Regions from separate parts of the Homo sapiens genome. Here region 2 is linked to region 1. A link means that fine-mapping ties the variant in region 1 to the expression of a gene that starts in the linked region. Tissue or cell type: whole blood. Region 1 holds a variant in brackets; the other region holds the start of a gene. All regions are shown on one strand. Distances are from middle to middle.

Region 1 (5,334 bases):
AGCTGGGACTACAGGTGCCCGCCACCACACTCGGCTAATTTTTTATTTTTTACAGAGATGGCGTTTCACCATCTTGCCCAGGCTGGTCTCAAATTCTTGGGCTCCCAAAGCACTGGAATTACAGGCGTGAGCCACCACACCTGGCCTCATTCATAGCTTTTGGAGTGTAAACCAAAAGAAAAATTTTAATCCCCGCCCAACCATTGGAATGGACTTCTTCCTAGGCCAGGGCACTTTAAAATTTAACCTGAAAGACTGCTTCAGGCCATGACGAGAAGCAGAGGTCCAACATGCCTCATTATACCTCTCCGGTATTAATATAAACACAGACCTTAGGACGGATAAGAAACATTTACAATCTGTCCTCTCTGAAGCCTGCTACCTGAAGGCTTCATCTATCTGCACAATAAGAACTTTGGTCTCCACAGTCCCTTAACCCAGACATCTCCTTTCTACTGATCCCAGGTCTTTGGATAAACTCAACCAACTGTCAACTAGAACATTTTTCAATCTACCTATAACCCGGAAGCCACGCCCCTCCTCCCCCTTGCTTCGAGTTGTCCTGCCTTTCTGAACTGAACCAATGTATTTCTTAAATGTATTTGATTGAATTCTCATGTCTCCCTAAAATGTATTAATTCTACAATTAATTTTTATGGTTTACTCAGTAGTAAGACCAAAACAAAAGAATGTTGTGATATGTAAATAAAGCAATGCCAAAAGCTAAAGATTTCAAAGACTTGGAAAGAACGAGAGAAATAATAATCATAAGCAAACTGACGTGTCAGTAATGTAGTGAAACTTCTCTAATTTATCCCAGTGAAGTGGGCTGTCAATTCTTACTCAGTGACAAGTTCAATTTATGAAATAGTTTTAAAGAAAAGTAACAAATTAATCTGATGTAACTAATGAGAAGCAATGTCTACATGTTTAATAACTCTTTAACAGGTCAATAAGAGCTATTTGTAACTAACACTTTCATTTTCTGACGGAAGCTCTGGATTTTATATGATGTGAGAGAAAAACCACCTCCCTTTCCAGGCCTCCATTACTTACTTCTGTCACAGTTCCCACTGATGTGGCACATTCCTCCTGGTGGCCTATGTGAAAACAAGTAGGCGAGAGAGCCAAGATTTCTCTGGTTTGGTTTTCGTGAGAAGGTTATGAAGTTAATATAGGGCCTAAAGTGAAATATTGCCATTTAAAAAAACTAGAAATGAACTCCTCTGTGCAGAGAAGAACAGGAAGATTAAGAAAGGGAAACTGGAGTAAGTTTTTATAATTTTGAGGAAATATCAGCTCTGCCACTTTCAACCTGGGGATCTTAGGCAACTTACATAACTCCTCTAAACCTCAGTTTCCTCATTTTAAAAATGAGAATAGGCCGGGCGCTGTAGCTCACACCTGTAATCCCAGCTCTTTGGGAGGCCAAGGCAGGTGGATCACTTGAGGTCTGAAGTTCGAGACCAGCCTGGACAACATGGTAAAGCCCCGTCTCTACTAAAAATACAAAAATTAGCCAGGCATGGTGGTGTGCGCCTATAGTCCCGGCTACTCCGGAGGCTGAGGCACGAGAATCACTTGAACCTGGGAGGTGGAGGTTGCAGTGAGCTGAGATCGTGCCACTGCACTCCAGCCTGGGCAACAGAGTGAGACTCTGTCTCAAAAAAAAAAAAAAAAAAAAAGAAGAATATTTAAAGAGAATAATTTAAGTGGCAATCTCTTTGTAAACTATAAAGTGCTAAACAAGTATTAGCTACCATTTCCAGGAGAGGCCTGCATTTCCCAAGTGGATATACATCCTAGAGAAGAAATGTGGTCTGGCCAGTGGGTCAGGATGTGTCTAGGGACATAATAGAATTAGATTCTAGAGTCAGCTTGCTTGGGTTCAAGTTCTTGCTCAACCACTTAACAGCTCTGTGTGAGCTTGGGCAAATTACATAACCTCTCTGTGCCTATTGCTTCAACTATAAAACGAGGCTACAGATAGCACCAATCACACTGGGTTGACGTAACGAATGAATGGGTTAACACACATTGTAGCAGCCACTGATCATTACTGTCCATTCTCCCCCTGTTCCTTACTAATAAAACCCCCGTTTTGTTCTAGGTGGCAGTGTTCGGGCAACAAAACTTGATTTGCTAGGCTCCCTTGCAACTATGGGTAGTCATGTGACACAGTTCTAGCCCTTGAGATACAAGCAGAAATCTATGGGCTGAGGCTTCCAGAAAAGCTATTTTCCTGATAAAAAGGAAAAGACTCAGCTGGCATAAGCCTCTTCTCTTTTGTCCTTCCCCCTATTCTGCCTGGAACCAGGACACAATGCCTGGAGGAGGAGCAGCCATCTCATGCACACTAGGAAGAAAGCCTCACACTGAGAATAGCGAAACCATGATGCAGGATGGATGCAGGATGGAGGGACGAGCTTGAGACCTGGATGACAATGTGACACTGTATATCTCCTGGCTTCGTATCATGTGGGACGAAAACCAAGCGCTCTGTGTTAAGCCCCTGGTGTTCTATTTACCTTATTTCAGGCAGCCAAACACATTCTCTAACCAATACAACTATAAAGCAGCTTGGTGCCTGGCTCATAGTATTCAATAAATGTTAGCTATTATTATTATCATTAGGCCAGCATTCTGTTCCCTAACCAGGTGGCTAGCAAATAGTCCCCTAACTTCCTTGTAATAGAATCACAATTTTCCTTTTCGAAATCACCCCCGCTTCCTGTTTTTTAGCCAAGTGATTTGCATGGGACTGACGCAGCCCCCAACTCTAAGCGCGGGCCCTGGTTGACTTAAGCCAATTATCCGAGCCCACTCCCCAAGCAACAGCAACTTTTCAGGAACAAGCACATAATTCAGGCCTAAGACAGCATATCCTCTTCTCCTGGCAAAAAGGAGTGTTTGGGGTGGGCGTATAGCTAAAGAAAGATATTATGAGTGAATCTC[G/A]GGGTACCTGGAGAGAGTGCTGGGACAGACTCACTTATCTCCCCCTAGTGTGGTGCTCTGAGCAAGGTTTCACCATGAGAAGAGCCAGTCCAGGGGGTGAAATTGATACATGGGGAAGGGCCAACCAAAAGGCAGGGAAATGGAGCCGGAGCCCTCCATCCTTAGTCTCTGGATCAAATCTTACCTTCGGAAGTTTCAAACCAGATTCGTTTGAAACTGGTTTTGCTCAGTTTGGGTCGGATCTTCTGCCACAGGCAACTACAAGATTCTTTCTGATACTGTTAGAAGAAAAAAATAATAATTTTACTGTAAGGACTACATGCCTACAGGGGAACTTTCCAAATCCTGGTGTAGTGCTTCTATTCAGTAAAATCTATAATCCAGCACCATATAAGTTCACATCACAATCACCTTTTTAAAAGAAAAAATGACAATAAGATTCACAATCAATTTTCAGTTGTGTGAATTCATTCAAATTTCTCTTCTGAAAGAAAAAAAAAGTCAGCCAGTTGAAAGTGTTTTGTTTTTGTTCTTTTTGTAAACACGTCCAGGAGAGGTCCATTAAGAATAAATTTGTATCCAGGCTTTAGAAGAACGCTGAGCCCAGAAGCAGACGCTAGAAATGTATGACTAATATTGAAATAATATTCACAGACAGTTGTCATGGCAGCCTACTCCGTCTGCACAAAATAGAACCCACTGCTTTTTTTTCTTTTTTTTTTTTTTTTTTTGAGATGGAGTCTCGCTCTTTCACCCAGGCTGGAGTGCAGTGGCGAGATCTCGGCTCACTGCAAGCCCCGCCTCCCGGGTTCACGCCATCCTCCTGCCTCAGCCCCTCAAGTAGCTGGGACTACAGGCACCCGCCACCGCGGCCGGCTAATTTTTTGTATTTTTAGTAGAGATGGGGTTTCACCGTGTTAGCCAGGATGGTCTCGATCTCCTGACCTCGTGATCCACCCTCCTCGGCCTCCCAAAGTGCTGGGATTACAGGCGTGAGCCACCGTGCCTGGCAGAACCCACTGCATCTTAACAGGATTTAGCAGAGGAAAACTGCTAGCATGCAGATAGCCTCTAAATGAATTAAACAACCTACTAATTGGTTTTGCTTTTATTACTGTAGATGGCCTTAGGACTCTACCCAAATTGTATCCAAAAGATCCCCAATTCTTGAAATCATTAGTAAAAATACACAATATGACTGGAGTTTAACACCTGCACCACACTTGAAATCTTTCCCTCAGACTGTGCAGAAAGCTTAGAGGCAAGTCTTATTGCGTGCCCAGTTGAATCCATGTGGAAACAAATCAGGCAGTAAGTGTTGTGGGAGTCGAGGGAGTAACCCATTCCATTTCCATCACCAATTAGCACTGGCTGCTATCAGGTGTTGCCTTTTAAATGGGACTCTAGAGGAGTGGGCAGTAGTAGTCAAATTGTTCTGTGTTCAGTTACCTAGTCACAGGGGAGTGACTTTAGAAACTAGGCACATCTCTGCCGGGTGTGGTGGCTCAGGCCTGTAATCCCAGCACTTTGGGAGGCCAAGGCAGGCAGATCACCTGATGTCAGGAGTTCAAGATCAGCCTGGGCAGCATGGTGAAAATCCATCCCTACTAATAATACAAAAATCAGCAAGGCGTGGTGGCGGATACCTGGAATCCCAGCTACTTGGGAAGCTGAGGCAGGAGAATCGCTTGAACCCGGGAGGTGGAGGTTGCAGTGAGCCAAGATTGTGCCACTGCACTCCAGCCTGGGCGACAGAGTGAGACTCTGCCTCAAATTAAAAAAAAAAAAAAAAGAGAGAGAGAAAAAGATACTAGACACATCCCAAGATAGGTTAAGTAAGAGAGGGGGAGACAAAACATTCTAAGCTCATCTGTTTCTCTCTCGAGTGGCCATCTCTAGGAAATGTAATCTCACTGAAAGTGATCGTGGGTGATTGTGAAGGTTATAGATAGCTGGTCTGGAGAGGTATACCATGTGAGGCCTTCTTTCCTATTAGACAGGTTTTTGCTTATCACCCTGCCTATCCCTCATCAGCCTTCTCTTTTGTCAAGTTTCTTCTTTAAGAGAAAGGAGACCGGGCCCAAATTCAGATCTAGTAACATCCTACATTAGGAAAACCACATCAAGCCACTATCTTCCATTAACATACTGGAACAAATGAGTCCTTTGGGTTAACTCATGTTCTTCAGACTTCTTGAGATGAGGCCATGTCATATACTTTTTTTAAAAAAGCTCCCGCACTACCCAACACTGTGTTCCCAGACATATTGCAGGCATGTGATAATGAACAACTTCCATCAAGGGACTGGAACACAGGGCAAGCCCTTGGTAGCTGGGGGACAAATTAAAGACATTGTCAAAATGGTACAGGAGAGAGCT
Region 2 (5,171 bases), 21 kb before region 1:
TTTACCTGATGATTAGTGATGTTGAGCATTTTTTTCGTGTGTTTGTTAGCCATTTGTATGCCTTCTTTTGAAAAAATGTCTGTTCATGACCTTTGCCCACTTTTTAATGGAGTTATCTTTTTTTTCTTGTTGAGTTGTTACAAAACTCTTAAAGTAAGACGTGAGCAAAAATCTTTTTGGACTCGGGAATGGATTCTTAGATATGACACCAAAATCACAAGCAACCAAAGAAAAAATAAAGTGAACTTCATCAAAAGTAAAAACTTTTGTGCTTCAAAGAACACCATTAAGAAAGGATGAAGAGAATTCAACAAATGAGAGAAAATATTTGCAAGTCACATATTTGATAGGAAACTTGTATCTAGAATATATAAATTTATCTTACAACAATATAAAAATAAATAATTCAATTAAAAATGGGTAAATGATCTGAATAGACATTTCTCCAAAGCAGATATACAAATAGCCAATAAACACATGAAAAGATGCTCAATGTCATTAGTCACTACTGAAATACAAATGAAAACCATGGTGTGATACCACTTCATACCCACTAGGATGACTAAAATCAAAAGGACAGACAATAACAACTATCGCTGAAAATGTGGAGAAATTGAAACCTTTATACACTGCTGGTAGGAATGTAGAATGGTGCAGTCACTTGGGAAAACAGCTTGGAAATTTCTCAAAATGTTAAACATAAAGCTACCGTATGACCCAGCAATTCCACTTCTAGGTATATACCCAAGAGAACGGAAAACATATGTTCACAGCAGCATTGTTCATAACAGTCAAAAAGCTGAAACAGGTCGGGCACAGTGGCTCACGCCTGTAATCCTAGCGCTTTGGGAGGCCGAGGCGGGCAGATCACCTGAGGTCAGGAGTTCGAGACCAGCCTGGCCAACATGGTGAAACCCTGTCTCTACCAAAAATACAAAAATTAGCTAGGTGTGGTGGTGTGTGCCTGTAATCCCAGCTACTCCAGAGGCTGAGGCAGGAGAATCGCTTGAACCTGGGAGGCGGAGGTTGCAGCGAGCCGAGATCGCCCCACTGCACTCCAGCCTGGGTGACAGAGCAAGACTGTCTCAAAAAAAACAAAAAACAAAAAACAAAGCTGAAACAATCCAAATGTCTATCAATTGATGAATGGATAAATACAATGTGGCATATTCATACAATGAAATATTATTCCACAATAAAAAGGAATATAGTACTGATACATGCTACAACATGGACAAAGCCAGACACAAAAGGTCACATAATATATGACTCCATTTACATGAAATGTCCAGAATAGATAAATCCATAGAGACTGAATATAGATTTGTGGTTGCCAGGGGCTGAGAGGAGAAAGTGCTTAATGGATAAGGGGTTTTACTTTGGAGTGTTGGAAATGTCTCAGAAGTACATAGGGGTTGTGGTTGCACGACACTGTGAACATACCAACTGCTGCTGAGTTGTTCACTTGACAATGGCTAATTTTATGTTACGTGAATTTCACCTCAATAAATCACAGGTATTTGAAAGAAAAAGCAATCCAAAAATCTAAGCTAATATTTCCACTTACATGCAATGTTTTAAAAGTTGAAAAGTATTTCAAAAAGAGAGAGGATTTGTTTTTACAAGTTGGACTTGGCTTTTTTTTTTTTAACCTAGGAAATTTGGCTAAATTTAAAGAACTGTGAGTAATCCTAGATATAAAAAGATAATTTCTCTTTACTCTCTGCTAATAAACGTCTACTACAGCAGTAGAGTTCAGATGGAGCTTTTGAAAGATTTATTTCATGACATGCTTAAAGATTTGAAAGAGTCAGTACACCTCCTATGTCCCTTCCTACTTTCAGAGATGAGTTTCCTACATCATCAGCACAAGTCAGCTGGGTAGGAGAATAACATTTGATTCCCAAAGTAAAACATCCCACGCTAATTAGTATAGCACACTCTGCATCCTAAACCCTCCACCTTAAGCCTGAATAAACTTCCAAAGGCAAGACGTGGAATAGAAGTTGGGGGAATTACCTATAACCTAGACATCAAAGAAGTGGAGTTTAAGAGCAAATTACTCATATTAATTGTCCCAGCTTATTTACTTGTTTTTATTTTAATTTGCTTGTTGGAAACTCTATCCCTTAAATGCTCAAGTTTGTTTCAACTAGATGCCAATAGCCATGAGAAAGAACCTCAGTACAAAATAAACAAAGTGAATATTTAAGCTTCTAATTATATGGGGGTACAGAAAGGCATGCCATCTATTTAGAAACAATACACCTTTTTTTTGGAAACAGATGATCTAGCATTCTCCCAATTCTCCTAGATTATTTTTAAAACGTGATGCAAATCTCATGAAGTTCTGTGTTGAATAGATATAGAAATAATGTGATCATTGAGTTATAAAATCCAATAAAAATTCAATGATGCTACTAAATGTCACAAAAGTAGGGATATAGCTATTTATAAAAGTATTGAAGAAACACATATAAATTACACTGCCTTTCTTGTTCCCTGCCACTGAGTTTTAAATTGAGATTTTATATTGGTACATTATCGAATGAAATTAAATCAAACACAAAATATCTCTAAGACAATACTTTATGGTACTTCATAAATTCAAAGCTACATCTTCCTAAATGTAGTTTCCTATGCTACTCTAACGATGCCTTGTGCAAATCACACAGGGCAGCTTGAGCATCGTGGGAGTAAATGAGAAAGGAGAAGAGGGTGAGGGCAGCTCATTTTCCCCTTTTCATTCATAACCACAGGCACATTCCCAGTACTCACATGTGTCAGATCTCCTGGTTTTCGTTGAAGAACTGCTGCATCCCATGACTTCTATCTAAATCATATGTGTTCATGAATTCAACTTCTGATTTTAAGACAGAGTGTGAAAAGTGCCTCCCTTTAAGCTGCGAGGAACCACTCTTAGCCGATCCTCTTCAGTCATAGATTCTAATGAGGAATACACAGGAGGGAGGGAAGGAAACCGCCAGTTAACCACATGGTAGCTGAGGGGCTGCTCAGCAGGATTCATTTTACGCTTCTTCTGAATCGCTGTTCATCATGTGATGTGGAAAGTGATCAGACATAATCTAATCCTGGCTTATTTTCCAAAACACAGCAGCAGCTACAGAGCAGCTATAGGCTGCTTCTCTGCTAGACATAAATGAGTTTCTCCATGTCTAGGTCACATCCAGCTCTGTATAAAATAGAGCATTCAAAATGAAAAGAAAAATCGAAATATGAGAGTGTACGATTTTCTAATTTAAATATGGGGAATGGGATGTGGAGGAGCTGACATAATTAACTGTTTTGGTTTTCAGCTCAAAGTAATTCAACCTATCTAGGCTTTTAAAAACACAAATTGGAAGTTGACTATGAGACAAAAACAACATATTTAACAGCTATGCTGAAATTCAAAGTGAGTTCTTTGACAGTATTTCGCGGAATAAGTTGGGAACATTTGTTTTAAAAAAAAGGAGGCAGCCGGTCGCAGTGGCTCACGCCTGCAATCCCAGCACTTTGGGAGGCCGAGGCGGGCGGATTACGAGGTCAGGAGTTCGAGACCAGCCTGGCCAACATGGTGAAACCCCGTCTCTACTAAAAGTACAAAAATTAGCCAAGCATGGTGGCACATGTCTGTAATCCCAGCTACTCAGGAGGCTGAGGCAGCAGAATCGCTTGAACCCAGGAGGCGGAGGTTGCAGTGAGCTGAGATCGCACCACTGTACTCTAGCCTGGGCGACAAAGCGAGACTCCATCTCAAAAAAAAAAAAAAAAAAAAAAAAAAAAGGAGGTTTGAAACCTCCCCCCAAATTTAGGAATTGTAATCTGTGAGAGTGTCCTTTTATTTATTTTATTTTTTGAGACGGAGTCTCGCTCTATTACCCAGGCTGGAGTGCAGTGGTGTGATCACAGCTCACTGCAGCCTCAACCTCCCAGGCTCAGGTGATCCTCCCGCCTCAGCCTCCCTAGTAGCTGGGACTACAGGCATGCGCCACCACACCTGGCTAATTTTTTGTATTTTTAGTAGAGACGGGGTTTTGCTGTGTTGGCCAGGATGGTCTCGAACTCCTGACCTCAGGTGATCCACCTGCCTCGGCCTCCCAAAGTGCTGGGATGACAGGCGTGAGCCACCGTGCCTGGCCAAGAGTGCCCTTTTAAACAAGCTCTCTGGGCACTGCTGAGGCCCCTCTGGAGTCTAACTTTGTGTTCTATAGTCCTTCTCATGAGCTCCCTGACTCCCATAATCACTTCACGGGAGTTTTCAACAAAATTCCTTTCCATAGTATACTGTCACGTCACTTTTTAGGGTGATGTTTCCTTTATTTTGTGATGCTCCAAACCAACCTGATCTAATATATTTGCATTCCTTTTTTTTTTTTTTTTTTTTCAGACAGGGTCTCACTCTGTCACCCAGGATGGAGTGTAGTGGCACAATCACGGCTCGCTGCAGCCTTAACCTCCCAAGCATGTGCCGTGACACCCGGCTAATTTTATTTTTTTGTAGAGACAGGGTCTCCCTATGTTGCCGAGGCTGGTCTCAAACTCCTGGGCTCAAGTGATCCTCCGACCTTGTCCTCCCAAAGTGCTGGGATCACAGGTGTGAGCCATCTTGCCCAGCCCTATTTGCATTTCTTGACAGGCACAAAGTCAGCAAACAACTGACATATCTATCTTTCCATTGGTACTACACCAAAAGCTTCAAAATTTCAACTCGACTGAAGAAAGGGAAAACTAAAATAAGCAAAATATTTGAACTATGGCCATGTTTTGAAAATAACAATAAGCTTAGTAAACAGATTTTCTGACCAGAGGTGAACCTGATTATTTTATGTATTGAATGAATTAGCCTTCCTAAACTTTGGGTTACTTCCAAATTTTTATTTATTTTTTGAGACAAGGTCTCGCTCTGTCACCCAGGCTGGAGTGCAGTGGCGCAACCATGACTCACTGCAGCCTCCACCTCCCGGGCTCAAGTGATTCTCCTACCTCAGCCTCCTGAGCAGCTGGAACTACAGGCATGCGCCACCATGCCCAGCTAATTTTTGTACTTTTTTGTAGACATGGGGTCTCACCATGTTGCCCAAGTTGGTCTCAAACTCCTGGCCTCAAGCAACGTGCCCACCTCAGCCTCCCAAAGTGCTGGGATGACAGGCATCAGCCACCGTGCTTGG

The links. PIP is the estimated chance that this variant, and not a neighbour inherited with it, causes the effect.
Region 2: PPEF1 starts here. The variant in region 1 is fine-mapped to the expression of PPEF1 in whole blood (TOPMed, PIP 0.99).

The regions. Positions count from the first base shown.
Region 1 is chrX:18,684,037-18,689,370 of GRCh38, reverse strand. PPEF1-AS1 (PPEF1 antisense RNA 1) reads left to right here. Exons shown (of 3, transcript NR_046642.1): 3 at 466-728. It also overlaps a transcript of PPEF1 not described here. Among named protein-coding and RNA genes, the nearest start is that of PPEF1-AS1, 6.0 kb to the left of the region's middle. The variant G/A (reference allele first, on the strand shown) is at 2,956.
Region 2 is chrX:18,705,434-18,710,604 of GRCh38, reverse strand. It overlaps PPEF1 (protein phosphatase with EF-hand domain 1), which reads right to left and starts at 2,960. Exons shown (of 16, transcript NM_001377996.1): 1 at 2,779-2,960. The coding sequence starts at 2,824.